Linked DNA regions of Homo sapiens. The protein of the gene in region 1 interacts with the protein of each later gene in a biochemical or structural test. Each region holds a gene or a part of one and is shown in the gene's direction. Other genes may lie near its edges. The genes, in order: SOS1, ANXA2 and NOSTRIN.

The links.
Region 2: the proteins of SOS1 (region 1) and ANXA2 form a complex in vitro, tested with the Homo sapiens proteins (one study listed by BioGRID).
Region 3: the proteins of SOS1 (region 1) and NOSTRIN form a complex in vitro, tested with the Homo sapiens proteins (one study listed by IntAct).

What each region holds. Positions count from the first base shown.
Region 1 is NC_000002.12:38,979,921-38,985,294, reverse strand, and holds the end of SOS1 (son of sevenless homolog 1), read left to right. Parts: 3' UTR 1-3,746; downstream 3,747-5,374.
Region 2 is NC_000015.10:60,359,394-60,367,764, reverse strand, and holds part of ANXA2 (annexin A2), read left to right. Parts: intron 1-3,241; coding exon 3,242-3,336; intron 3,337-6,710; coding exon 6,711-6,824; intron 6,825-8,371. UniProt on the Homo sapiens protein: Calcium-regulated membrane-binding protein whose affinity for calcium is greatly enhanced by anionic phospholipids. It binds two calcium ions with high affinity. May be involved in heat-stress response.
Region 3 is NC_000002.12:168,797,814-168,806,552, forward strand, and holds the start of NOSTRIN (nostrin), read left to right. Parts: upstream 1-4,823; 5' UTR 4,824-4,833; coding exon 4,834-4,860; intron 4,861-8,739. UniProt on the Homo sapiens protein: Multivalent adapter protein which may decrease NOS3 activity by inducing its translocation away from the plasma membrane.

The sequences.
Region 1 (5,374 bases):
GGCCCGGCACTGTACTACAGGCCTGTTTACAGATTATTACGGTGAACTGAATGGGTACCGAGGCTTCACCAAAGAGGTACTTTTTTGTTGTTGTTGTTGTTTTAGGAATAATTGTACCAATTTTAAGAGCATTCCCCCCACCTGTCCCCACACACCCAAACAAAATGTGGTGGTGTTGCCTTCAAAAAAGAGAAGTTTTGTGTCATTAACATGACAGAAGAACTTTTTAAAAAAAAATAACTGTCAACTATTCTATTTGCATTTAGGAGACTGTTCATCTATGCTAGATTGTCATTTTCCCTCCTTCTCCCACAGAAGTTTACTGGTAGTCCATGTCATGGCTCGTAGCTATCCCTCTAACCATACCATGGAAATGCAGGCACCCAATGTGAAAAGGAGCACTTGCTGGGCATCACTGACACCGCTCATGTTTTACACATAGTTGAGTAATCAGCATATCTAGAATTATCTTGCATTGCCTAAATCATATGTATATAGTGAATGTTATATAATATACCTGGCAGGTCTGTTTTAATTTAATTGAATAAAGATACAAATACTTTGTTTGGCTGGCATATATTAAATTATTATATGAAGAAAATGGTTGATTCTTATTTCTTTTAGTTGAAAAACACACAAAAACACTAAACATAAAAGCACGTTTTGTGGTACGCCTTGGTTTCTAGTTCTGGATATATGTATTAATCTTAAAGAATGATCTAAAGTCACAGCTTGGCATATAGGAAGATACTTGGTTAGAATAGGATGGGTATCTTTTAAGCAGAACTTTGTAAGTAAGTTTTAAGTTCCTAAGCAACAAGTATACAGTTTGTTAAGGTTTATATTGAACATTCTACCTTGCTTGAGGTTTTCTGCTTTATCAAAACTATTCATAATAGAACATCTACCTGCATCATTACTATCATAATATGGATTATTCATAAAGCGTATGTACTGTTCTTCTGAGTCTAACAAATACTGTGACTGAAATGCATGCACCTTGTTGAAGAGAAAACATTTTATTAATCTCCACTATAATGTCTGTGAAATGTGCAGTATTCCATCCTTAGAGAGTTTATCTGGTTCATCAGCATCTGCATGTATCCTCTGAATAATGAAGCAACATTTCAGCAATTCTGTTAACCACACCATTAGAGACATTTTTAGAAGTGCTGCAACATGGTGGGAACCTAGTACTTTAATAATTTCCTATGATATTTATTAGAGCATAAAATGTACATCACGATAGTACAGTATGTAGTCCTTTAAGACCAGAAGGTATGTTAACTGCACCATCATTAAGCAGTCTATCCTATTTTCTTATTTATTTGTTAGAATTGAATCCTTTCTCAATATCTGTACCATTCCTATGATGGTAGCCATTCTTCTCTTTATAAAATATTTCCTCTTTGAAAAGCGTCCTAAAACATTAATTTCAAATCCCCTCTTGGATGCAAAGTGTCCCTAAGACCATCCATTCAACAGTATTTATGTGAGCCAACTTACTAGAGCCGCTACAACTAATCATGATAGACAGTCCAGAATCTCCCTGGACTTTATACTGGGCCAGCCTCATTGTCCCTAAGATTTCTCTTTTTATGTCTCATGGATTACTTCTCTTTTTAATTGCCCCAGGCACATTCCAAATGAGAACCTGGTAAAAGTCACATTGGACCCCCTTCAGTATGTCTTCGGCTAATGTGTTAGCCTTCAATAAGGTGATAACCCCTTTTCAACCTATCTAGTCTATAAAGAGGAAAAATTCAGATTTGGAGTTCTAATCCTATTTCTCCCAAAGGGAACTATTCTTCTACCCCATGGTTCTAGGAGACCACTTCACTGTGCAACAGTTTTACATGCATTGTGGATGGAGGATATTTTTATTCTGAACTGTTACATTTAGGTAAAAATATTTTCTGCAGTGGTAACTGATTAGAAAAATGCCAATTGGATGCCCTTAGGTGGAGGTGAGAAAATGGCATCCTTGCCTTCTTCTCAATATGAAACATTAACTAGTTGACAAATTTATCCTTGTAGTAATGAAAATCTATTTAATCAGGGACCAGAAATGGCTGAGGAGATAAATGCATCATTACAAAATTCTGCTTTTGAATCCTGGACATTACAAGGGGGTAAATGCAGCATGACTTTTTGTTAACCACATTCCAAAATGTGGAACATTTCTTTTAGAAATGAAAATATTTCAAGGCTGATGTATTTTAAGACTACACATTATCAGGAAACATACATTGAGAGTTCGCTTAATTAAAGGTTGTTGGGCATCAAATTATGTTTAGTAGGTTACTATTCTCTAACAACTCAAGGATGCTTTAATGGATCTGAATTTGACAAAGAGCATGCCACACTAATACTACAGTCAACAACAGCCCAGAGAACAATTACTATGTCAGCTGGAGGCTATATTATGATTCTAAATTCTTAAAGGTTTTTTTCCCTCCATAAATCAAAAATTACCTTATGTAAACCAAAAATTAGTTGGTATTTATGGTCATGATCTTAATTCTCAAGTTTAGCTTAATCTTGTATTTCATTGTTTGTCTTCTAATATGACAGCTTAAATTCAGATTTTTAAGTGACTCAGCAAAATAGGAGGAGTGTCCCAATTTATTAGTGTTGTACATATTGAAGAAAACCTTTTTGTTCCTTCAGATTTAGAAAGAAACAGTTTAACCATTTATTTCTTGGTATTCTGCTGCTGTGAATAGGTTTACTTATTCTTTTAACATATATTGTGTGACTACGCAAGTATAGGTCCTGTTGTATTGCATTAATCTTTACCAGTAACTAAACATCACAAGGTTAATATTGGTTTGGCTGAAAGAATTATGCAGTAAAGTTATTTATAAGGGAACATGATGACTTTATTCAATATTTTTCTTCTTTGAAACATCTCATTACTAACTTTTAAGATTATTTCATAATCCCTTATACATGAGCCAATGAAATATTTTGAGCTCTACTTAAGAAGCATGAAGTCTATATTATAAATCTAAACAACAAAAGCACTTGTAACTTGTTTAGTAAATTCCATGCCTTATTTTCCATTTTTGACACCGTAAAGTGCATTTTCTGTCGACTGTGAGCAAATTTCCCTTTTGCCTTTAATGAAAATAGTGCATTAAGTAGCCAATTGCTGCAGAATTATAAAGCAAATTAGCTAACAGTGGGTCACATTGGACTACCACTCAAAGAAACAAGATGCATAACAGATGATGGAAGGTACATGTGGTGTGGCTTAGGGAGAGCGCACCTGTGCCAGATGCATGCCACTTTCAGTAGCTGCCAAATGTGCCTTTAATTAAGAACATCTCTAATTTTTTTCTTCAGATCAAGTCAGCATTTGGGGTCGGGATTTGGGCAGGGAACTTTGGGGTGCAAATATCTGGTGAAACCACCAGAGAATTTGTTTGTCAAAGTGACATGTATAATTTTAGTTGAGACGTGTTTGTGTATATATGTGTATTTGCCTTTGTTTAGTAGCACGGTTATTTGCTAAAATAATTGTCAAAAAATTGCTCTGTCGGTCGGTCTTTGATGTAAGAACAAAGTGTGGTCTATACATCTAATATGGCCTTTGTACCTAACCATGTTCATAGGTAATCTTTGTACTCTGTGTGCAGCAGTATTTGGTTTGCATTTAAAGTGAAAATAACGGCTGTTATTTTTCTGGCATTACTAAGATAAACTGAAAAATAATAAAGAAAAATGCCTTACATAGCCCACAAGTGTATTATTTTTGCATGTATTTATTTTAGAGGGCAGTATTTTTGAAATCATTAGTGATTCTCATTTAGCTCATATATGCCATATAGAAATATTTTGCATTTTTATTGTGGTCTTTCTTTGGAGGCACTTTTTTCCTGTATCAAGTTATAAAAGGATAAAAGAAGTTCCACATTTCCTCTGTGTCAAATCTGCTGATTGATTGTAGTGAGTGGGAGGCCTCTGGGATGAAAACTAGTAATTTAAAGTGACCTTGAGTGTCACCTGGATGAAGTTTCAGAGTGCTAAGGCATTTGTATTCCATAAAAGAAGTTTTGAGATATCACGTTCCCTGACAGGCAGCTTTTGCTGAGATCTGCTGGAATGAGGTAGCCTGACCTTTAGCAATTCTTTTTCTAGGCTTGGCATGAAAATGTGAGTTTAGGGTTGTAACTAAAGAATGATGCAAATGTACCGTCATTCAGTGTGAACTATAGGATGTAAAAATTGATGAATCCTTAGAGAGCCAATCCCCTGATTTAAAAATTAAGGTAGATGAGGCCTAGAGAAATGAGATGACTTAGCCAATATCATGTGGCAGTCCAAGCATGAATTATCGAGTATATTCTAGGTAATAAATTTAATAGTTATAGGACAATAATGTTTTTGTTAAACTTGATTCTGAATTTTCTCTTGAATTATCACTTATTCTGAGCTTTAACCCAGTGATTTACTTTTTAACTTATTTTAATCCTCTTAGGTCATCGCAGATTAGTCTGTTTGGTACAGTCCATAGTTAAGCCTGCCTTTTTGCTGATAGCTGCACATGGTGTCCAGAGGGAAGGATGGCTTCAATACAGAGTACAATTCCAAAAAAGCAGTTTATGGCCATTCTAACATTTTAGGACTCTTGATTCTTACTGGAGGCAAGAAAAACTGTAGCCCACTTAACAGCTAATTTCTCTACCTCAGTAACTCATCAAGAAAAGGAAGAATCAATGTGATAGGAACAAGCAGGTGCTTTGGAATCATGTCTTTGCAGAAGTTAGTTATTTAATCTGTTTCTCATCAATACAAGGAGGTTAACAGATGTACTGTTTGAGGCTATTATGAGGTTTAAAGGTAATATGTGTAAAGCACATGCCTTTCACAGAGTAGGTGCTTAGTAAATGCTAACTAAAGTTACGAGGGATGCATTGTCAAAGTTTACTGGCTTTTAGGTATCTTCTAAGAGGTTGGTTGCTTATTCTGAAGCCCTCATAATTTGATTCTTTATGATTTCCTTTGCTGTTTATCATCACTTAAATTAGTTCTGAGTGACCTTAGGTTATAAGCATTTGATAAGGGCCCATCTGACTATTCAGCATTCAACAAATATTTATTCTTCAGGTACAATTCTGATATTAGGAATATGGCAATAAACAAAACAGGCAAAAGTACATGTCATCATGGGGTTTTATAATCTAGTGAGGAGATGCAGACAATAAAAAGTAGTAAGCATAATAAATAAATATATTATACATTCGAATGTTTTCACTTATGAACAAAAAAGGATATGGTGACTAGGAATGTGGAAGTCCAGGGGAGGTGAAATTTAAATGGGATGGTCAGAAGCCTGCCTCATAGAGATGACATTAATAGACTTGGAAGA
Region 2 (8,371 bases), on another chromosome or scaffold:
CCAGTAGGGGCGGCCGGGCAGAAGCGCCCCTCACCTCCCGGATGGGGCGGCTGGCCGGGCGGGGGCTGACCCCCCACCACCCTCCCGGACGGGGCGGCTGGCCAGGCAGAGCGGCTCCTCACTTCCCAGTAGGGGCGGCCGGGCAGAGGCGCCCCTCACCTCCTGGATAGGGCGGCTGGCCGGGCGGGGGGCTGTCCCCCCCACCTCCCTCCCGGACGGGGCGGCTGGCCGGGCAGAGGGGTCCTCACTTCCTAGTAGGGGCGGCCGGGCAGAGGCGCCCCTCACCTCCCGGACGGGGCGGCCGGCCGGAAGGGGGGCTGACCCCCCCCCCCACCTCCCTCCCGGACGGGGCGGCTGGCCGACCCCCCCCCGCCTCCCTCCCGGACCGGGCGGCTGGCCGGGCAGAGGGGCTCCTCACTTTCCAGTAGGGGCGGCCGGGCAGAGGCGCCCCTCACCTCCCGGACGGGGCGGCTGGCCGGGCGGGGGGCTGATCCCCCCACCTCCCTCCCGGACGGGGCGGCTGGCCGGGCGGGGGGCTGACCCCCCCCACCTCCCTCCCGGACGGGGCGGCTGGCCGGACGGGGGGCTGACCCCCCCTCCCCCCTCCCGGACGGGGCGGCTGGCCGGGCGGGGGGCTGACCCCCCCACCTCCCTCCCGGATGGGGCGGCTGGCCAGGCGGGGGGCTGATCCCCCCTCCCCCCTCCCGGACGGGGCGGCTGGCCGGGCGGGGGGCTGACCCCCCACCTCCCTCCCGGACTGGGCGGCTGGCCGGGCGGGGGGCTGACCCCCCCACCTCCCTCCCGGACGGGGCGGCTGGCCGGGCAGAGGGGTCCTCACTTCCCAGTAGGGGCGGCCGGGCAGAGGCGCCCCTCACCTCCCGGACGGGGCGGCCGGCCGGGCGGGGGGCTGACCCCCCCACCTCCCTCCCGGACGGGGCGGCTGGCCGACCCCCCCCCCCCCCGCCTCCCTCCCGGACGGGGCGGCTGGCCGGGCAGAGGGGCTCCTCACTTCCCAGTAGGGGCGGCCGGGCAGAGGAGCCCCTCACCTCCCGGACGGGGCGGCTGGCCGGGCGGGGGGCTGACCCCCCCCACCTCCCTCCCGGACGGGGTGGCTGCCGGGCGGAGACGCTCCTCACTTCCCAGACGGGGTGGTTGCCGGACGGAGGGGCTCCTCACTTCTCAGACGGGGCGGTTGCCAGGCAGAGGGTTTCCTCACTTCTCAGACGGAGCGGCCGGGCAGAGACGCTCCTCATCTCCCAGACAGGGTCGCGGCCGGGCAGAGGCGCTCCTCACATCCCAGACAGGGCGGTGGGGCAGAGGTGCTCCCCACATCTCAGACGATGGGCGGCCGCGCAGAGATGCTCCTCACTTCCTAGATGGGATGGCGGCGGGGAAGAGGCGCTCCTCACTTTCCAGACTGGGCAGCCAGGCAGAGGGGCTCCTCATATCCCAGACGATGGGCGGCCAGGCAGAGACGCTCCTCACTTCCCAGACGGGGTGGCGGCCGGGCAGAGGCTGCAATCTGGGCTCTTTGGGAGGCCAAGGCAGGCGGCTGGGAGGTGGTTGTAGCGAGCCGAGATCACGCCACTGCACTCCAGCCTGGGCACCATTGAGCACTGAGTGAACGAGACTCCATCTGCAATCCCAGCACCTCGGGAGGCCGAGGCTGGCGGATCACTCGCGGTTAGGAGCTGGAGACCAGCCCGGCCAACACAGCGAAACCCCGTCTCCACCAAAAAAAAACGAAAACCAGTCAGGCGTGGCGGCGCGCGCCTGCAATCGCAGGCACTCGGCAGGCTGAGGCAGGAGAATCAGGCAGGGAGGTTGCAGTGAGCCGAGATGGCAGCAGTACCGTCCAGCTTTGGCTCGGCATCAGAGGGAGACCGTGGAGGGAGAGGGAGGGGGAGGGGGAGGGGGAGAGGGAGAGGGAGAGGGAGACTCAGCAGCAATTGGATTTCTATGTTTACCTTGGCTACTCTAAAAATGAGAGCTAAAGTTATAGATGCTACAGTTAAGATAGCAAGCATATTGGTATGGACTTGCTTTGAAATGAGCATATACATTTTAAAAAGTTATTTATTTTTATACCCAGAAATTCTAACTTTATACTTTTTGATCTAACACACTTGAGAATTCAAAATACTTCCTCTGTCAATCTGCTGTTTGTCTTTGTCTCAAGCGTTACAGTTTTGACCTTTCTGTTTCTTCAGGACTCCTCTGATTTTCTTCAGGCCAAGCCATTTGTAGTTTGCAAGTGACTTTGTAGGTTTAGCAACTCTACTCTCTCACCCAAGAGTTACCTATCCAGTTATGGCAAAGACTGTTTCTTTCATTAAACAAAGTTATTAATCAGTCAGGAGAGAGACTTTTCACATTCTGAATTTACAAACTGTGCTTTCTTAAGTTAAATGGCATGTTAGGAGTATTTCTGATATGAAATTGGAAACTTGCAGACACCAGAAGGCATTGCTTATCTTTGTAAATACACATGTTCCAATTAAAATAGGTACTAAAATATTTTGGTGGCACCTCAAAACTCCCAATTTAGATTTAATTTAGATTAAAACACTTACTCTTTTTAATAAAGTTATAAAATTAATTATTAAAATTGCCTATTGAAGATTAAAGGCAGTGGAACGTTTATTTTCCTTACAAAACAATTTTGTCTTCAATAAGTGTGATTGTGTTAATCAATTATGCTATTAAAAATACAACTGCCGTGTTAAATCTGACTCATTTGTCATGACAGTTTTTATAATTATAGAAATTATACCTAGCTGCTTATATAGCCATAATCCTGCAATAAGTATAAATAATTATCTCTATTAATTCAGTTTGCAGTTACTCTCTATTAAATCCCGAGTTAAATGGCAATTTGGGGACCTTCATTTAAAATCCTACTAAATCTCTGTTGTTCCATCTGACTGCCAAAGCCCCACATATGCACCTCCTACTGTTGATTCCAGAAACCAATTTATGAATAAAATAGTTTTTAAACCACAAGTATTTAAAAGGTCCATTTAAGCTTGAGGTTTGAGGCTCTCAAGAAAAAAGGAAAGAGAGTGTACACATTGGGTAGAGGATGCTGACGAAAGAGATAGAACAAATCTTGGTGTCTGGGTATTTCAGTTTGGAAAACAGTATATAAATTTCAGTTTGAAAAAGTCTGCTTGACACCTTCTATGTAAGCCCAAAATACTAGAGTATACTGAGTAACGATTAACAACTTGTATTTCCATAGGTGTGGATGAGGTCACCATTGTCAACATTTTGACCAACCGCAGCAATGCACAGAGACAGGATATTGCCTTCGCCTACCAGAGAAGGACCAAAAAGGTACAGGCAATTCCAGGGATGGAGGGCATTTCTTGTTGAATTTTTGTTTCCTCAGACATTGCTTTTTCTTTTCATGAATTGTGGCTCTCATGCGCAAAAGACTTGTGGGACCCTTGGATATCTAAGATTTTCTTCTTAAATCCTTGTAAGAGTCACTGCACATGTGTGTGTGCGTGTGTGCACGCGCGCGTGCACCTCAGGTCATCAGGCATTAGGTTCTCATAAGGAGTGTACAACATAGATCCCTCGCGTGTGCAGTTCACAGTAGGGTTCGCGCTTCTGTGAGAATCTCATGCCACCGTTGATCTGAGAGGAGGCAGAGCGCAGATGGTCACGCTCGCTTTAGAGTGCTTGGGAGCTCCTGTGTAAGGACAGTACCCTCCCCCAACCCAGGCTACCTGGAGGGAGAGCTTCTGGGAATAGAAAGTTAGGAATAGGGAACAACAACAATAACAACAACAGGCACCATTTATTGAGTGCTTACTTTGGGCCAGGCACTGTGCTCAGTTTTGTACATGTAGCAACTCATTTCATCTTTATGACTTCTGCTGGTTCTTGATAAGATGTTTCTAATTTAATTTTAGGATACTAGCCTCCACTGAGTGTTGATCCTAACAAGCTCCTCTCATTTTAAAAATATACACTTGAATTCTTAAGCTTTTTGCAACGAGTGGGCTTAGTTGTTAGTTCATTTGGTCTGCAAAGCTATCTTCAACATGCCATGCTCCTACTATTTAAAGGGTCTTTGTGTGCTTTTTCCCTTTGCTTGTCCACTAGTGGTTAAGAAACAACCAGTGCGTGTTCGTCCTTTATTTTGTCAGTTGTAGGAAATTTTATTTTTAAGGACGTGCTGCTTTATTTTTAACTTCTTGCTATTAAAAGCTTTTGATTTATTCTTGGACAGTGCAGTAAGTGTGGCTTCCTGCAGCTCCCGTTTGACTTATGGCTTTCACTTGTAGCCACAGTGGAGGTGAGCTGGAAGGATTCTAGAAGAGATATTTCTGCCCTTGGGATTGACATGACCAGCAGGGTCCTGGGAGTTGCAGGTCAAGCCTTGCTACACTTCCATCCCCCGCACTCTAAATGGTTGGAAAGGACATAAATAGGAAAGCATCTGGCTTCTTTCATCTCAAGTGCATTAAAATTCTTCTTTCACTAGAAGTGTATTAATCTTGTGTAGTGAGGCATAGAGGGGAGTGTTTTATTTCTGCAGCTTCCCAAAGGGGTCTGTGAGCTGGTAGAGCCAAGTTCCCAGTGGAGCAGAAGGCTCATCTCTGGATAGCAAGCAAAAAATTTGATCTTTCAGCTGTCACAGAGTATGGTCTTGGAATACATTTGGGTGTGTACACACACACATAGAAGCCTGAAACTTTTTTTTTTTTTTTTTTTTTTTTTTTTTGTGACAGGGTCTTGCTCTGTCACCCAGGCTTGATTGCAGTGGTGTGATTCGGCTTACTGCAACTTCTGCCATGTGGACTCAAATGATTCATCTCAGCCTCCCAAACTGCTGGGATTACAGTCATAAGCCACCACACCCAAAACCTAGATCTTGGTTTTAGATTAGATATATGTAGAACAAAGCTCCCACATACCCTCTAGGAGGGAAGATATTACCAGAATTATGATGAGGTCCCAAGATCTCACAGGCTTTGCTGTGTGCTGGGGACAGCTCATCATCCTACTAATTCTTGACTCTCAGCCTTAGGCCAAGGAGAATTATGTATCTTTTATAAAAGATATGTAAACTACTTGAGATAGTTTCAAGTGAAACAATCGGCTGTTTGTGAAATAAAGAAGAAAATTTGTGAAATAAGGAAGATTTGTGCTGCAGAGTTCTTTAGGGATACGGGCTGCAGCTGCCCAGGTGATGAGCTTGAAGAACCTAGGCCCGGCTGGCAGAGTGGAGAGGAGCTGGGAGAGACAGCTGCTTTTACGACTCTTTCATGTTCTAGCAGACGCCAGATGCGAGGCTTCTCCTTACAGGGAAGGGTTATGTTTGATTTATCATACATTTCTGGAGTTTTTGTTTAGTTTTTGTTAAATGCAAAGCTCTGTGCTGGACATTGTGAGAAACAGGAAGTTGAACGCCCATAAGGAGTTTAGAATAGAAGTGGAAGAAGTCAGTAGGTGCCCAAATGCTATTTGAGGTTTGAATAGAGAATGGGTAGAGGGGAGTGTCAAGGGTAGGCTAAGTTTGGAGTTACCTAACCTCAAAGTTCCAAACTGGGAGACTGGTGTTATAATTGGGAGCTACTGCTTTTACAGTCCCCTCCTAAGTGCCGTGTGTTCCCGGGACATTGGGAAGCAGGAGAAAATGGGTGGTGAAAGCCAGGTGGCTTCTAAGATCCATGTCAGTTCTAACACTTTTGACATCTACGAATGATTCAGCATGGTTGTCTCTGAAGCATGCTGCAAATCACCTCTCGTAGCCTGCAAGTACCTGTAGGGGCTAAGCTTTGTAGATGCCACAGGTGCTCTTAGAAAGCAAGGAAAGAAAGAAGAGAGAGAAGAAAAAAAAAAAAGCGAAAAGAAGAACATTATTTCAGTAGGAGGCTTCAGTCATCAGCCATGATTTGTAGGAAGTTTAGCTCGAGGAAGCATCGCTAAAAGACACATTGAGTTGGGGTGTCTGTCTACATACATGGGTGCTGACCAGACCTCTGACAAATTTTTGTGTTCATGGTGACAGTGGATCCAACCCTTAAGAAATTACATGCAGCAGGGAATTCAAGGGGGCCAGTTCGGGGGTGTTAGTTTCCTATCACTTCCATTAAACACCGTCCGAGTTTGGTGTGGACAAGGAGATATTTTCTCAGTATTAGATGAAGTGTTTTGCATAGGAAAGTTTCATGACCTCACTTCCAACTGTGTTGCGGCCTCTGGTTCCTTCTGGTGACTTTGAGGAGCTGCCGCTGGAATGGCTGCCCCCACGTCTTTTACAGTATATCGGGAGGCCACAAGATCTGCTTGCCAGGAGGCTGTCTGCTCAAACATCTCCTTCTTAGCAGGGGCCTTGATCTCCGAAAGCGTCCTGCCTTCCACGGAGTGTTACTGCTTTCAAGCATATTGCAAAGTGCCTGCACTCTCACAGCTTTCTTAGGAATCACATACGACTCCAGTTTCCTTTTATTGACCGGGGAAGACGGCAAAATTAACTTGGATTTTAAGGAATTTCGTTGAAGCAAAGCCTGATGTTTATGTTTCTGAGATGTGGGTCTGTTGAAGGGAATGCAGTTGAGGGCGTTTGACCCAAGACTCCGGAGTGGTCAAAGACTCACAACCTGCTTCACAAAAAGATCCCTCTTACTTTTGTTTTACTCACTAGTTTTAAAGTAAAATAAATATTTTCCTTATGATTGCCTGTTATCTTGAAGGAACTTGCATCAGCACTGAAGTCAGCCTTATCTGGCCACCTGGAGACGGTGATTTTGGGCCTATTGAAGACACCTGCTCAGTATGACGCTTCTGAGCTAAAAGCTTCCATGAAGGTAAATGCATGTGAGATGTCATCTCTGTCAAATCTGCTATTAATTTTGTGAATTACAGCTTTCTGAGTGTAATTTGGTGATTTTCAGTTTTGTTGAATTCTCATTTGGAACCATTTTTTAAAAATGAACTGAAGTTATATGTCTCAGGATTTGTACCAAAAATATTTCAATTACTTGTTTTAAGACTGTAAAGAAATTTCATGATGCTGAGAAGTCAGTTACCAGCTGCTACTACTCAGCACCTGGGCAATTGGAATACCATTTGGGAAAACTACTTCCTTGATTACACTTCCTCCTTTAAAAAGATATGTTGTGATATTAAGGCAAGAAAAAAAAACTCATAGCTTTTGTTAAGTGAAGCTTGCAAATTCTGCCCATCCTTTCGTGGGTGTTTCTTCCTCCCATACTCTCTCTGTCAGTACCATTTGTTTCAAATTCAGGCAGAATCAGAACATCATAGTGCATATAAGGGGTAATTCTGGATGAAGAATCGTACCTGAATCGTACCTGTGAGAAAGTAACTGTGAAGTCTCAATGCACGTTATCTTTTATGTTTTTCTTTTGTAAAGTTCTTTTGAACCTGGAATTTTAGGTTAAATTAAGTAAAAACTGTAGATTGGAAACCTCCTGAACTTTGTGCATACTTAAAATATCAAGTTTTTTGTTTTGTTTTGTTTTGTTTTTTGAGATGGATTTCGCTCTTGTTGCCCAGGCTGGAGTGCAATGGCGCGATCTCAGTTCACTGCAACCTCTGCCTCCCGGGTTCAAGAGATTCTCCTGCCTCAGCATCCCGAGTAGCTGGGATTACAGGCATGCGCCACTACGCCCAGCTAATTTTGTATTTTTAGTAGAGACGGGATTTCTCCATGTTGGTCAGGCTGGTCTCAAACTCCCGACCTCAGGTGATCTGCCCACCTTGGCCTCCCAAAGTGCTAGGATTACAGGCGTGAGCCACCGCGCCTGGCCAACATCAAGTTTTATATAAATGCAATAGATGCACACACATTAATGTATGTTGTACTGCAACACATTTGGACCCTTTTCTTAGTGTGGGTCTGCAGCATTTGAACAGTCCGACACTGCCCTCTGCTGATATACATGGGTAAAGTCTGCGCTGTAGATGAGGGAAACCATTGGTCTTGATTTTTTATTCCGAGTCTGTTTTCTCTGATGCCACTGTTCCTGAATTATGAACAGTCTGAGCTGTAAGCCTGTCACCAGAGCTAATGTCACAGTTCAGTTGTCATCCTTTTCCCAGAGAACACAAGAGTGAGGGTGCTTCGGACACTGGGCATCTCCAAAGCCTGGAATTTGATAGCTCAGGGCTGCTGTAAGATTTGTTGTTAAGTCTCTTTCTTCCTTTAGTTCTTCAGCTTAGCCCAAGCTGTGCTCAGTTTATTTTAGCGGACTTGTCTGAGTTTCCTAAGTAGACTGTACTGCAGAAAAGACGTCATTAAGAATGATAAAATGTCGACAACATTTCATGATCCTGGTTGATAAAAATAGCGCTCCTGAAAACCGAGTCTGTGGACCTTTGGAGGCAGGGA
Region 3 (8,739 bases), about 130 Mb from region 1:
CCTTGTGCCTCTGTTGCCCTGTGGGTATTATAAGGATCAAAATAATACATATCTACCTCAAATGATAACTGTGATGATTAAATAAGTTAATAAGTCATCCCGCAGTATCCATGGGGCATTGGTTTCAGGATACCCCCTCATATCAAAATCCAAAGATATTCAAGTCCCTTATATAAAATAGTGTCATATTTGCATATAACCTACACACATCCTCCCATGTACTTTAAATCATCTCTAGGTAACTCATAATACCTAATGCTATGTAAACGTTATATAAATAGTCATAAATACTTATTTGTATTTTTATTGTTATTTTTAAAATTATTATTTTCAATCTACAGATGCAGAACCCAGGGATATGGAGAGCCAATTGTATTTGTAAAACACTTAGAATGGTGCCTGACACGTGGTATGTCCTTTAAATGTGGGCTCATATTACCATAAAGTATTTAACTAGGTCTCAATTGATGATGTTCATGCTGTTGCCAATTCTTTGCACGCTTTGGCTACTAAAGAAACTTCCAAGGCAAGTTTTGAATTGCCATGAGCTTCTATTACATTTGGGCTCCTTTTTCTTACTAGCTTACCAACACCCAATATTTGTTTGTGAATACTTCATAAATGCGTACTCATGTTGTTAACTCCCCTTAGAGGCAGCACAAAATGTCAAAGTTGGAGTCCAGCAGAGCAGCTTCCAGGCCAGACCCTGGAAGGGAATCCGTTGCAGGTTTTCTTTCTGCAGAGAGGCCATACCAGGAAGGCACATGCTGAGCAGAGACTGAGAAAGAAAGCAGGAAGATTAGGATAGGAGAGGTCAGACAGTAAATCTAACCGGAAGCCAGGCTGGAAAGCAGCCAGAGTATGAGTGCGGGTCAGAAATGTAGGACCAGAGACGAATCTGAGAACAGAGAACTCAAAAGGACTCTTTGTGCATTAAAATTTTCAGAAAGTGTGAATGGCATACCTTCTTGGAGGAGATGCTTCGATCGATCGATCGATCGATAGATAGATAGACAGACAGACAGACAGACAGAAGATAGTTCTTGAGAGAAGAAAAATGGCTTAGAGCAGTCTGAGCTATATGAGGTATGCAAAATTTATCAGGCCCAGAGAGGGGAGTATGGGGCTCAAGTCTTGCTCTGCCTCCTTGAACCCACACCTAGAAGCAATCATGTAAAGGCATCTTGTTCCTGACTAGCTGCCTCATCTGCTATCTTTATGGTCCTGGAATTTGTGATTCACAGAACAGTGTAGAGCCAATCAACAGCTTGTGTTATTTTCATGGAAATTCTTGGCAAACAACTCAGGAGCTTCCTCTTCCTCTTCTTTTCCTTTGAAAACCTACTTGTACCTGCTGCTAACCAGAGCGTATACTCAGGGCCACTTGAAACTATGCTCTTGGGTTGCAGCCCTCAAGCTTGGCCCAAGTAAATGCTCTACTTATATTAAGTTGGCCTCAGTTGTTCTTTCCTTTAGGTTCACATTCTCATCAACCTGTAGGTACAAATGAGGTTGTTAATATTAATTCCAAAACTACAAGATTCTTTGCTCCTCTTACTCACATGGGAACTCAGTCTCCTCCTCCCAAAGTCCCCTTGGGCCATTTTTGGGGACTGGAGGAATTCTCACATGCTCGGGGACAAATGTGCTCACTGTGGTCTGCTCTATCCTTCTCATCAAGATGCCTCACCTACCTGAGCCTCAGTGGCTGAAGACAACTTAGCAGGTTCTCCCTGCTGCTGCCTCCTCACAACCCATATCCAGGAGAGGTGCTTTTTGCTGTGCTCCTTAGCAGAGTATGTGTAGGGTGGAATGTGGGGTCAGAGGAGAGAACAGCCCTTATCCGTCTAGAGTCTTTTATGATTTAGGTCCTCTTATTTCTCTTCCTAACGCCAGTCTGCTGAGGTTCAAAACGTGTCACCCCAGGCTGGATTGGGGAGAGGGAAAGAAAGACATATACCAGCCACCTGCTCCTTGTCCTTGCTGCTTTATCTCTAGTCATTCAAGAACAAATATTAAGCAGCCATTGTAGTAAATTGAATGGAAAACTAACTCCAATTGTCTGCCCCTCTCTGTCTCTATGCCCTTTGCAATGGGACACTAAGTTCCTCCTATTATGAAGTGGAAGCTCTCCTCACCCCTTTAATCTGGGCTGGCCCATGACTGGCTTTGATCAGCTGGATGTGGCTGAAATGATGGGATGTCCATATTAAGCTGTACCTCCAGAGGCCTCGAGCTCTTCCACTCACTCTTGTGGCTCCTCTGCCATACCCTGAGAAGAGCCTGGTTAGACTACCAGCTGATGAAATACGGCCTCAGCCAACAGCTAGCTCCCAGCCAGCCCCCTGCCCAGAAAAGCCCAGATGCATGGCTCTGCCAAGCCCTGTGTAGATGACCTGCTTTTACATGAGTGAGGTCAGGGGACACCTGAAGATCCATCCAGCTAAACTACAGATTTGTGAACCAAATAAAGTCTCTGTCATTTGAAGCCACTGGGTTTCTGTTTGTTACACAGCATTATTGTGACAAAGGATAAACGATACCAACCTATTTCTGACCTCCAAAATCAAGGCTTTTTGCACATTCAAACATTCCTCCGAGAAGCTCAACAAATAGCCAAGTTCTAATTCTCAGTCTGGATTCAGCTGGGATGCCCTGCTGCCCTTACAACGGCCCAGTGGCAGACAGGAGCAAGATGGAAGGATTTTAATTCAGCAGATGTCCAGGAGGTCTGAGGGAAAGCTAGTCAGCCCACTGGGAATGGCACACATGAGGAGTTTGGGGATAGGAGTGCCCTACCAATCTATAATTCGTATACAAAGATCACAGTAGGCTTTGTGTGACAGCACTTCTTATGGAAACTGGCAAGGGAGGCCAATTTCCTCAGTTTGGACTCAGTTGGGACTGAAATGAAACACAGAACAGCAAGAAAAATGGGGCAGGAATCACAGAGAAAACATTGAGCTGTCCCAAGTCCTGGAATGGTGGCTCCGGACAAGTTTATCTAAAATCTCTGAGGGCAGAGAAGCCCCCTCAAGTGGGAATTTGAGTTACATGTTATTAACCTCAGTCTATATCCTGTCTCTAAATTTCTTTTAAAAAAAAAACAAAAAAAGAGATGGGGTGTTGCTATGTTGACCAGGCTGGTCTCGAACTCCTGGCCTCAAGCAGTCTTCCCATCTCAGCCTCCCAAAGTGCTAAGATTACAGGTGTGTGCCACTGTGCCTTACCTAAATTTCTTTTATTATACAGAGTTGCTTTGTCTAATTCTAGCCCTGTGGTAGCTACCCAAGATTGTTGTAACCTCCAGTGATCAAGTTCTTTGGATAAGCAAAGAGGGAGGGCATTAAGTGTGTGGAAAAGACCCCTCCTCTCCACTCTTGTTGCAAGGCAAGTTCTTTTCCTTAATTGTCCCCTGACTCTTCTACGTTGTTTCTGGAAGCTTTTTTTTTTTTTTTTTAGAAGTAGAGTCTCACTCTATTGCCCAGCTTTGAACCCCTAGACCCAAGAAATCCTTCTGCCTCAACCTCTTGAGTAGCTGGGACTACAGGCACATACCACCACATCCTAATTAAAAAAAAAAAATTATAGAGATAGGAATCTCCTGCTATATTGCCCAGGCTGCTCTCAAACTCCTGGCCTCAAGTGACCCTCTAGGCTCGGCCTCCCAAAGTGCTTGGATTACATGCATGAGCCACTGCAACTGGCTTATTTCTAGGGACTTTGAATGGAGCCTGCACACCAGGGGCAGGTGAATGGAGGCTGAGTCAGCCAGTCAGGTGAAAACTGAATGCTTTTAAACTCTGAAGTGTTCCACTGGACTGTGTTGATGGAGCTCCTTTCAAACTGGGGCCTGCCCTTGCCTGCCAGTCAAACAGAACTGTCCACAGTCTAGCAAATGGCTGTCGTACATCAATAGGCCATTCATTGGAAATCTAATGATTGGCAACTGGGACCACAGGTACAGGGAATGCAATAGAACTCAAGCTGTGGTTGAGTTCTTGTTCTGTCTATCCTTTTGAGTGATGAAAAATGAGGCCAGATCTAGGCAATTTTTTCTTTACATTGAAAGCTTAGCCTCTTGATCCTGTTGGGGCTGGAGCGAGTGTGGAGTTAGGCTCAGAGAAGTGGTTAATGTACGCTTTGCTCCTGATAGCTGTTTCTGAACATTCTATAGTTATAGTTCTATAGGTGTAGGTTCCTAGTTGTTTGGTGTCTGGCCCTGTGGGATTTAGGGGGTGGGGGAATATGGGCTTGGTATTTGAGAACTGGGTAACAGAGATGGTGGGGAGGTTTGGGCTCTGGATTTGTTGGTTTGCATATTAAAGGAGTGCTCACAGGCCAGTTGTTTGCTCTCTCTAGGAATTAGCTAACCCTCAGAGAGGCAGTCTGTCTCCAAGTCCATGAGGTCCCCAAAGGTCAAAGCATCATACAATACAGAAAATAAAAAGCATGATTAATACTGCAGGCTGAGAGGATATGTGTTCCTGCACTGTCAGACCAAGCGCAAGAATTGTTGGAGACATGTTACAGCTTCTCTGCCTTCTCTCAATGTTACGCTGTTCAGGACTCAGGATCCTGCCCTCTGAGGGTTTACAGAAGTCATTCTCACTATCTCACACTGGCCGTCTTGACCCAGAGCAGTTCTTTACTTTCTCGGGACACAAACGGGATGAAAGTCCAGGGCTGGGACTTCCTCCTTGGAATGTTTGACAAGGACTGACGTACTCTAGGCCCTTTGAATCCCGGAAGTCCAGGACACACCCAACCTTGATTACAGTGTCCAGAATGCTGGAGCGTAGGTGAAAGGACAAAAGCCAGACACATTTCAACATGAGGGACCCACTGACAGATTGTCCGGTGAGTAGCTCAGTGTGGTTTGTGTGCCTGCGTGTGAGGAGGGTGGAGGGTGGATTTGTATATTAATGGATTTTAACTTAAGAAATTTGAGACACTCAGAAACCAAACACATTTAGATATTGGCTGTGGTGCAAAAGTTTGTGGTTTTTCTTTGGTTCAGTTTAAAAACAGAGCTTTTTCTAGGAAATGACAGGGCAGGTAATTGTCATCTTTCCTTCTCATATTCTTGGAAAAAGTTTTGAGAGAGTAAAGCCTCATATTTGGATCCAGATGGTGGCTGTTTGGAAAACATTCTTAAGACATACACCCATGGTGCCAACATCATGTGTGGTGTGGATACAAAAACACACAGAATGTCTGCAGCCAATTTTTGGCTCTGAGAATAAAGTGAGGGAGGAGAGTTTTTGTGCCTTTTCACCCTCATTTTTTGGAGTCAAGGATCACAAGTCCTGCAGGAGGAAGGATAGACTCCCCACTCTGCCTGGCCTGCAGTGGCTCTCAGACTGGTTTAGCAGCATGTTTGTTCCATGTTTGTTCGTTTTGGTAATGTTTGGAGCACTACCAAAAATATAAGTTTGGTCAGAAGTCCAAAGACATTGTGAGGTCTCCGGCGGCAATAGCAGAGATGTAATTTAGGAGATAAGAAGCAACTAAAATAAAGGGGGGGATATGTTTACTTTGAAAATAAAGTAATTAAGGAGGGTCAGTGTTTTATCCCAACACATGGGGCTGAAAAGCTAAGATTGGTGACATCATAAGCAGGAGGTTGCAGTCATCCTTCATGTATTGATAACACAAACTGTGGGGCGGCAGATAAATGGGCGCTGAGATAAAGTCATAAAGAAAAAGATCAGCAGAGGATTATTGATTTCCTTTTTGTTTATTCAATGGATAAGAAAAGCACATGGTTGGAAAAAATGGAACTATAGTTACTATTGCAGAAAATCAGATGAGCTAAATGAGATGAACTCATAAATGACTAGTAATTTTAATAATGACAACATAGTAGCCAATTCTGCCTAATTTTCCTTTTTTTAAATACAGAAATAATTTGTGCTTAATGTAGAAACAAATTCCAATGATATGGTTATATATAGATTTTTAAGAGTGAAACTTCCCCCTTTAATTACTTCAATCTCAGTGTTCTCTCCATTGTTAATTGTGAATAATTTTTAAGAAGTCTTTTATCATTTATTTTTCTCTCCTTGAGGTTGCTCCCTGACTAAACTGTTAAATCCTCTCCTGTCTCAACACTCCTACCTCAATGTTTTTGTATAGGGGCGGCAGGCCAGGACAGGGATGGGGTAAGTGGCAGCAAAATCTTGGCACTAATAGTAACCAAAGAAGAAAATTAACACCAGGGAAGGGTGCAATGGACAGAAGACAGGGAAATGGTGGGCAGCTTTAATTAAGTTTAAAAAGAGAAGAAGAAATAAATCCATAAAAAAGAAACTGAAGGTCTAACATCCTTTTTGTAGACAGCAAAGTCAAGTCTTCAGACGTGGAGAAATGTTTTCTTTCAGCAGCCCCCAAGGCAACCCATAACCACACTTCTGTGTCTGCTTAAAGCTCCACTCCCTGGCATGCTGAATAGTTCCTTGTGCTATGCTGGGCCAAGGACTCCTGTCCTTGTCTAAAACTTTGAAGGTCATCTGTATGGGCTCATTGCCACCAAAAGTATCCGGGAGTCATGGGGAGGGCGGATATCCCTTCAGCCTGGGTTTCCAAACCCTCTAAACTCACAGAACATTTATTTATTTGCAATTGTTTCATCTTAATCAAGTGTTCAAGTTGATTTCCTGGCACATTCTTAGCTTGTACTTGGGGAACAATGCTATGTGAAGATGAATCTGCGGTTTGGGAACAAAATAAGACAAGGAAATGGATTGCAAATGAGTGCCTCATGAAACATTTAGGTAGTTTTATAAAAGAACCCAAAGCTTTAACCACCTGCAAAATGTCCCCTTCCATGAGTCCCTAGAGTTGCACAGAGCACAGTTCATAAAGTATTAGCTTAGCTACTGTTCTTAACCGGGCCCACACCAATGTACCCATGTATGGAACTCAGTGGGTTGCATGAACTTCAGTGAAAAAAAATCTCTATTTGTACTAATTTCTAACTGAAATTTAGAATTTTATTCAATCCAGAATATAGGCAACAAGCCCCAATACTATTAGTCATATCTGTATAGTGTCTGTGACTTTGTAACCAATAAAAATCAGAAATTTTATGATAACATTACAGTTGTTGCACATATCTAGAAATATTTACATTCACCCTGACTTCAAAATGTTGGTAATACTTAAGATATGTAATTTAGTATGTTAATAAAAAAGCACATAATATCATAATTTTAAAAATACATTCTAAAAAATATATAATTCATTTCCTTTTTAACCCTACGCTACTTAAAAATGTTATTCTGAATCAAATAGGTTTCATGAGACTACAAAAAGGGCTCATGGTACGAAAAAATTTAAAAATCTCTTTTAGATCAAGCTCTAATGGGCAAAATAGACTGACAGCTGGGCCTTTCAACCTCAAAGAGCAAGGTCAGTGTTTGAGTTCAAATTGTTGCCAGGGTGGCATAAGATTGCCTAAATGCTGTGTAGGATTAATCTTGAGAGTGTCAGAACTTATTTGAAAAAGATATCTGTAAGATATCTTTAAAGTTCTGTTTTTGACAAGGAAAAGAATTGGCTCTGGGCCTTGATGTTTCATTGCCTATGAAGGTTTAGGTTTAGCTCTTAAACCTAAAAATATGTCTAGGGAACTCATCTTCAAATCCATGTGCAAGAAAGGCGAAGTAAGATCCAATTATCTCTAAGGGAAAGAATCCAATCATAAGAAAGTATTAATAGCACCTTCCTATCAAACAATCACATAGAAATCAAGGACAAGTAACAAGCTGTAGCCAAATTTTTGCTTTTTACACACTCATACAGTATCCAGGAAGGGGTCTGTCAAAGCAAGTCTTCTGGGCGCCACACAGTCAGCCCCTCCCCGCATGTCATCGGCCATTGAAATGGCACCAGGCTGCTCCTCAGGTTGGTAACCTGGCTCAGATGCCAACCTGAGCTTCCCATCTTGGTGGCTTAGCCTGGATATCAGACAATGACTGTCACTAACTCAGATGGTGCCGGTGCCATGGTCCGTAGCTCCTAGGAGAATCTGACTCGCTGCAAAAATACAGAAGGAGGCTGCATATGGCATGGGTGTCACGTGGCCCACAGCCTCCCCAGTGTGCATCAGTGAGATGTGTAACATGCCATTCCACATTTCTTGGACCTCTGTTTCCTTGTGTGTAAAGTAAAAGGAGGAAAGGATGGAGTAGACTATGCTCTTTAATGTTCCATATCCCGTAATCTATGACAGTCTGCCACAGGGATTCCAAATACTACGCAGATGGTGAACAAGTACATGGAATCCCTTCAGAGAGGGGCAGTGCTTTGAAACATCACCCCCAGTGAATCAGAACTCACATGATATCAGTAGCACAGTGCCTGGCGTAGTAAAGGCAGTCAGCAAAGTTCATTGTGTTAAATTTAAGGGGAATATCATGGTTTCTTTAACACTGTGAGGATCATCACTAATCAAAAAAAATCCTTCTGTACTAGCATCAATAAAAATAAATTTTTCTATAACTTTTTCTAGAACTAAATTTAACCCTCTTAATCATTCAAGCAGAAAGAGCAGGTGGGCCAAGCTTGATATAGGCACTTTATAATCTTTACAAGTCGCCTGTCTAAACATTTCATGTGCTGACTGGCTGGATTACTAAATGTTTTTTGTAATGGCTATATTTATCAACAGAATTTGCTTACAAGTGCTGGGAAGAAACATTTTCCTAATGGCCGAATGGGAAATGTCTGTCAAAT